Linked DNA regions of Homo sapiens. The protein of the gene in region 2 purifies or fractionates together with the protein of the main gene of each other region. This does not show direct contact. Each region holds a gene or a part of one and is shown on either strand. Other genes may lie near its edges.

Region 1 (3,831 bases), on a different chromosome or scaffold from region 2:
TTGTAAATGGCATATTTATGACTCTTTGCATATTGTAATCACAATTCTGGAAAATGGATATCATAGTAAAAAATACAGTCTTCTATATTTGCTTGGGGTTACAGGTGATGTTTTTGATGCTCCATTATTAAAGGGCTGAAAATAGTTGTGTGCTAATAATTTTAAAAATCAAAATCATGAAACAAAAGAAAAAAAAGAAAGACAATGTTACAACAATTAATCTACAAAAATATTTCAGTGATTCCCATAATTTACCTTTTAGTAATGTATACTATGTTTTCAATGAGTTTAAATGAATTAACAAAGAAAAAAACAGAAAAAAGAAAACAAGTTTGAATGTTTTAGGCAAGTTGTAGCGTAACTACATTGTTATAGTTGAGAAAATTACAAATATCAATAATACATAAAGATGAAACTACCAAAGTAATACAAGTTAGATACAATACTTTTCCACAAATTAAAACAAATGCAACGATACAAGCACTATGTAAGAATACATTTAGCGTGTGACTTTCTTTTAGATAGGGTTATCAGATCTACGATATAAGATAAATAGATAGTAATTCGACTTTGACCAACATGAATTAAAATGCAGATTTCTTTTTTTCCTCAAACAAATAATGATACGGTTGGTGCATCTAGTTTTCAGAACAGGCGATGATCCCAAATTTAAAATATTTTACATTCAATCTCAAAAGTCAAAATACTTCAATCACTAATATGTTCACAAAGAAAATGGATGTTTGAAACAATTACACATAATATTCATTTATAACAGCTGTTTTGTTTTTTAAACAATAATTTAAAAACTATGTAGGTACTGTATAGGCTATGTGCAACATATAAAATGTGAAATATGAAATATTTGGTACGATAGTGCTTAAAATAAACTTTAAAACAAACTTTCTGAACAAAATTTAATTGTATCGCTATTACCTTGAAGATCAACCAAGTATTTAAAAAAGTAAACAACATTAAAATATGTTTCATCCATATATAGTATATATATGTATGTGTATATATAATATGTATGTACTTGTATTAAAGTTTTTTATACTTTTGAGACATAAAATATGCTTTAAGGTGAAAGAATTAAAAGAACTATTTTTTTCCATGCTGTAGTCAGTTACAACCCTTTAATCCAACTTTTGAAATGCAAAACAGTAATGGATTTTTTAAAAAGTGAAACTATCTACTTTTTGTTTACATAGTAATTTAGATTAAAGTCACAGTCAAATTTGCAGTGACTAAACTCAAACTTACTTAAATTAGAATATTATACAGATCTCCTCACCTACAGCTTCCTTGTTTGACTAGGTTTTTAGTTAAGAAGAGTTATTCTGTAACAGGCAACTGGATGGTGAGTTTGAAAGACTAATCTCTTAGATTAGACTGTTGGCATGGGCCTCTCAATCTTGTCAAGCTGGATGAAGTCTGGCAAAATCTAGGCACTTCTACAAAGTCTCTCTTATAAAACAACTTTAAAAATATACTTGTAAAATAATACCTTCAAGACTTTGTTTGGTGGGGTATGAAGCTCATACCGTGCAAAGTTTCTTTTTCAATCTATTTAATGTTAATCTAGAATCACATGATTCAACGTGGCATCTCCAGGCAAACCAAACACCACACTTTGATGTGTCCCCAGTACTTGTGCTTGAATTTCCATTCAAATTTTAGACCTGCAGGACAGGTATCGGTTTTACTTCACCTCTCATCTTTGCTGCAGCATTTATATTGTCAAGAAGTGAAACATACCCTTTGATCCAGTGGGTAAATGACATGACAGTAATTAGAGCTAGAATCGAACCTGCCCTTGGAATATGTTTCTTTTTTAACTAATGCTAATTGTTTATTGCTAAATTTGAAATATTCTGAATCGAAATGAGTAAACTGGCTGGACTTTCTGCATCAGCTATAGTTATGGAGATAAGACAATATTCCTAGGACAGAAACTATGTTTAGAAACCCTTTAAAAGTAAACTTTATCCTTTATGTCTTTAAACATCACAGCTGGTCTCAGGTAGTTAACTATCTTAGGTTGGAATATACTAAGCATACCATATTTAATACTCATATATGAGATAGCAGCACTAGCTTCTTAGAGTTGTGGTCTGTCCAGAAGAACTACATCTTTATTTAGCATGCAGTTTGTGGCAATTCTATTGAGGAGGAAACAGGATAGTATGTACAGTAACAATGTTTAGTTATTCTCAATGCAGATTCTTGGCATTCCATTCCGTTTCTGCTGATTATTTCAGAATTATCTGTTAAAGAGAAAGACAAGCATGATTTAGGTATCCTTCTGGGAGGAAAAATAATGAGTTTAAGTTTTACTCTTCAAAAATAGACATTTGAAAATCAGAGTTTTCTTCAATCTCTCATTATTTTGATGCAATTATAAATTTGCACAATACCCGCCCTTCATGCTGAAAAACTTTACACTTAACCACTTCTGCTATGTGGCCACTATAAAGAAAGATGATTCAAATGCACAGTACTTTCTGGAAAACTGTGGCAGCATATAGAGAGGCATGCATGTTTAGACCACAATTTCTTTTTAAAATTTTTGCTTTATAGCTCTTTATTATACATTCACATTATTGTCCAATTCATATTTGCTACGGTGATCAGAAAGTCTAATCAGAGAATTTGTTTGTACTGAAAAGTCATTTGTAAGGCTTAAATATAAATATTTCAAAATCTATAATAATCAGATATTATTTATCTATTAACTTGCATTTTTAATTCAAAAATGTATTCCCATCAAAAGTAATTTTGTTCCCAACACATAACGACAACCAGTTCAAATTCAAGGTATATTTAAATGTCACATATCAAAGAGTAAAAGGGATAACAGTCTATTAAGGCAGTTAAAAAGTTCTTAATACATCCAAAAGCACAGCTAAAGCACAGATAAAGGTAAACTATTAAGTGCAAGCTGTGGTCCCTTGAGTCTGATCTCTAAGTTCATTTCCAGCTCCATACCTTTGCAAAGGAGAAGGAACTTGGCCCGTGTGGTCCAATCCATTAAATGTCAAGGTTAAAAGCCAAGTTTTTAACACACCGTAACAAAACTATTTAATCTTTTCTAATGCTTTGACCAAATTTTGTGTAATTAATAAGCAAAGCGTTTATTCATTAAACAAGAGTCTGTTAGGAAATAACTGGTAAAATTTGTTTATAATGAGAGTCAGCTAATACTTCTGCACACTAGGATTCAATTCCCAACAAAAGCCTTATTTTCCTAAGCATACTGTATTATCCTGTTATGTATAATTTCTCCACGTGGATATTTTTTCCCTTTAAGTGAGTGCTCCTGTACTTTATATGCAACAATTTTAGTATATGTTCCTCCCATGAAATAAACATGAGTATTCTTTATTTTATTGAAACAGACAGATGTGTAGAGAATTCATAAAAATAGAGAAAGAACTAATTTACATTAAATATTTATAGTAAATGGAAACTTAAAACTTCAGATAAGGTCATTCTTTGATTCTTAAATATTCCTAGGAATGTAAAATTAACTGGGAAAAATAGCATTCCTTGTCTTGTGTACTAACAGACATGAATAAAATTAATAAGATATTATTTTATATGTAAACACAGCATCTAGTATTTGAATACTATTATCTTTGAATATTATCATTGCCAATAGGTAATATTCAAATTTTCTAGATTTAGATATTAAATAGAAATGTTTTGATTTCATCCCTTAGTTTCAAGCCTATCTGTAAGTTTTCCAAATAAGAACGCACCCTAGTCCATCAAATCATGTCTGATTTTTCTTTTTCTTTTACTTTTAAAAAAAAAGTTTCTAAAATAACT
Region 2 (3,831 bases):
TCAGAAGAATGTCAGGTATACAAAACCACGATTTGCCAGTCCTCTCTCAGAGGAGATAATTGATACCACAGGAGCAGGTATGACTTTGCTGCTGGGTAGAGAATGCAGCCATATAAGAAGGTGGAGTAAAGACAGAGTCAGAGATTACCTTGGAGGAAGTGTAGGAAGAACCCGGAAGAGTCAAAGGACAAAGAAGCATGGAAATGCAGTTCCTGCAAGGCTAACGAGGCCATGAAAAGAAAGAAAGTATGGTCGGCAGTGCTGGAGCAGAAGTCAAGCTCTGGTGATTAGAAGGACACCAGTGACACTTAGAGAGCAGTTTCAGCAGACTGGTGGAAGCCAGTGGATGTTCTATTTGTGCCACATCCTGGGTAAGCAGGAGCACGCTTAGAACCAAATCAGCATAAAGCCTTGTCCAGGGCAAGCCAACAATTAAGTCACTACAGAACAATGGAGCTTCCAACAGCTCAGCCATGTCACTCTGCCCTTTTTATGCAAATGACCCCAGCAAAAAGAACAGCAAAGGTAAGTACCTAAGTGAGTGGGCAGATTGGGACAATCCTATTGTGTCCAACTAACGACCATGAAAAGGAGAGGACGTTTCACCCACATGGTTGGTTCACTCACTGTGCATTCGCTCATTAACACTGTGTTAGGCCTAACGTGCTGAGAGACTGAGAAGAGGCACATGGTCATAAAAAGAGACCTGGTTCCTGCCTTCAAGCCGCTTGCAGTATAGTTGGCATGGATTTCCATGCAGTCAGAATACTCCCCAGTCAAAACACTCCATCTATAATGCCTGATACAATCATTGTTCAAACTTTCACAAAATTACCCGGGTTATCAAAACCTTTTTTATGCTTCCCTGTAGTAGGTAAAGGTAAAACTTAAACCGCATGATAAGTGGGGACATTTGTTCATGTAAAAATCATCTGGTAGACTGAATTATAGACTCACTAAGGGCCATCCTTTCAACATCCACCATCACTTTGTTGCTCATGCTTCTCCAGCATCTATCTACAAATCTAACCAAGTTCTATTTCATTATTTCCAATTTCCAGTGACACTTCACTTGAACTACCCTTCACTGCTCTCAGACTCAGTTCTGAAGTCAAGCTTAGCACATGGCATGTCTCAAATCATCACCCTCTGCAAACATCCCTAGCCCTGTGTATGGTACTCTTATTTCATCATCCCTCATAAGCATCTTCTACACCCAATCAATTGCCAAGCTCTGTATTAAGCAGAGTCATGGGCACATAACAGATGTTCAATATTTACTTGTTGATTGAATGGACACGTTTTATATCCTGGGTAACCTTTGTGGTCTAATACCAACTATGGATCTAACACTTCTAATGACAGTGGTTAAGAGGATGGCTTTTGGTGAGAGATGGATCTGATCTGGGTTTAGTCCAATCTTGGCTACTTAGTAGCTCAGTGACTTTGGACGCATTTCCTTGTTTACAAATGTGAATTATTAGGGTTGTGAGAATCAAATATAAAATGCATGTAAAGGTTAGAGCACAGAGATGTTATTTCTCTTAGTCTCTTAGTCCACTGTCAATGTTTATCCATCTTAATAATCTAACGTGAAATCCAAAGGAGTCCAAACCCCAAGATGATACCCATGGTATTCAACTTGAGAACCTTATTTGGACTGTTCAGTAATTGCAAGAAGGGATGATCACTCACGTGAGACACTTTCTTGTGAGCATAAAATATTTTCACTGAAAACAGATCTTACTTCTCCTCCTGGATCCGTTCTCCAATATATCCAGTTTTGAAATTTTCAATTAAAAATTATCTAATGCAGCAAGCCTTATTGAGTGCTAGCTGTATTTGTTGTAGCTACTTAACCAATTAGGCTGGAATACCTTCTCACTTTCCCCCTAGAAAACTAATTTTAGATTCTTAACGAGGTCCCTCTTTTTTTGTCAAGCTTTCCCCAGCTCCACACACAAGACCTGTGTCTGCCTGGGATCCGCTTTGGGAATGAACCTGGAGGTTTCTTATGTGCCCCATCACACAGCCACAGTTGGGTGTGGCCGTGTCTTCCCCAGTGGTCCATGAAGCCCTGAGGTGTCTGCTCTGTACACAGTAGATGCTGAGTCGGTTCTCAATATTTGAGATGACTGGAGGGGGCAGGATGAAAGGCCAGAGGATAGAAACTTAAAGTTACCTGTGCATCTCCTGCCAAGCTTAGAGGGTAGGCTGAGAAGGACAACGTGTAACCTCAGAAGAGGGGGAAGGAACTCCAGTGAATGTGTGTCCAAGATGAAGGAAAAGTAGGAATTTTGATCCCATCGCTTGACAGTAATTTCCTGGTCTTAAAATTTTCTTCCCCCTTTGCTTCTGGAAAATGCATGGCACATACTGGGCCCTCAATGAATATTTATTGAGTGAATACATGAATGCTTCTTCTCTCTGTTTGTCAACGTTTTCTTTTGTTCTTTTTGTTCCTTCATGTTCTTCCTAACTACTCAAGCTTTCCCCTCACCACCCCAATACAGTCATTCTCTCTCTCTCTCTCTCTCCCTCTCTCTCTCTCTCTCTCTCATCTGCTAACTCCATCTATAGTAGTATAACATATGCAGGGGTGTGTGTGTGTTTGTGCGTGTGTGTGTGTGTGTGTGTGTGTATTATTTTCCATTTACAGAGGAGAAAACAGAGTCCCAAAATCCAAAACCGAGCACCAAAGTTTACACAGCTGTCCACACAGCTAGTAATAAAGATGCAGCAAATAAGATGCTATTCCCCCAGAACCCTCCCACTGTTGTGTGCATCAATCCATGGTGCACTTTGACTCCCAGCAGCCAGCACCTGCGATTCTTTCCCCAAAGGACCAGAACCCACTTTGCCAGCCAGTGTCCACATGGTGCCAGAAGTGCATGGAATTAAGTCTCCCCTCCTGCCCACAACCAAGGGGGAACAGGGGTGACTGCCCTTAACTAATGATTGACTGGTGTGAAGGCATAAAGACTACAGCTCTCTAGTCTCCAATTGGCACAGCTCTGATGAGTGATCCACACCACCCCACGTCCGCCCAGGGTGATCAAGCCCAAGTGATCTTCAGAGGACTTCTCAATGTCTCACCCTTACCTGGCTTCTTCCTTTTCCCTGCCCATCTTCTCTGGAAACCCTCCTAATAAATCTTTCCCACAAATCCTCACAGAAAGCACTGCCTCTGGGGACCTAGCCTAAGGCAAGGTAGATGCAGGATTCAAACCCAAGCCTGTGTGTCTTCAAAGTTTTTTCCCACTATGTTGTGGTTGAGATGTTATTACAATCGTGTTGGTCTGCTCTTTGTTCATTTTACAGTTATACATTTAAAATGCATCATACAACCCTGTCTCTACTAAAAATACAAAAATTAGCCCAACGTGGTAGCACGTGCCTGTAATCCCAGCTACTTGAGAGGCTGAGGCAGGAGAATCACTTGAACCCGGGAGGCAGAGGTTGCAGTGAGCTGAGATCATGCCACTGCACTCCAGCCTGGGCAACAGATTGAGACCCCATCTCAAAAAATAAAATGAAATAAAATAAAATAAAATGCATCACACATACATTTTAAATATTTGAATGGCCTCTGTGGTTTCAGGTATCTTGAAGACAAATATGTATTCAAACACTCTATGCTTGCTTACTTTTTCTTACTGTAATTATATTGTCTCTGAGGCAACAGACTTTTGAACATCTTAGCAAAATGAAATAAAGGGCTCAAAGGGGAGAAAAAAGTCATTTTTTTAAATTTGTCTTTGTAATTGCCTCTCACCTGGGTCCAAAATTAAATACAAACTAAAAGGAGCTTTAGCTGTTTTGTGTTCTCTT

Evidence for each region.
Region 1: the proteins of HSD17B2 (region 2) and MBNL2 purify together in Homo sapiens (affinity purification with mass spectrometry, with the first as the bait; one large-scale study listed by BioGRID). This does not show direct contact.

Annotation. Positions count from the first base shown.
Region 1 is NC_000013.11:97,389,758-97,393,588, reverse strand, and holds part of MBNL2 (muscleblind-like protein 2), read right to left. Parts: intron 2,268-3,831; coding exon 2,140-2,267; 3' UTR 1-2,139. UniProt on the Homo sapiens protein: Mediates pre-mRNA alternative splicing regulation. Acts either as activator or repressor of splicing on specific pre-mRNA targets. Inhibits cardiac troponin-T (TNNT2) pre-mRNA exon inclusion but induces insulin receptor (IR) pre-mRNA exon inclusion in muscle.
Region 2 is NC_000016.10:82,038,059-82,041,889, reverse strand, and holds part of HSD17B2 (17-beta-hydroxysteroid dehydrogenase type 2), read right to left. Parts: intron 1-3,831. UniProt on the Homo sapiens protein: Catalyzes the NAD-dependent oxidation of the highly active 17beta-hydroxysteroids, such as estradiol (E2), testosterone (T), and dihydrotestosterone (DHT), to their less active forms and thus regulates the biological potency of these steroids.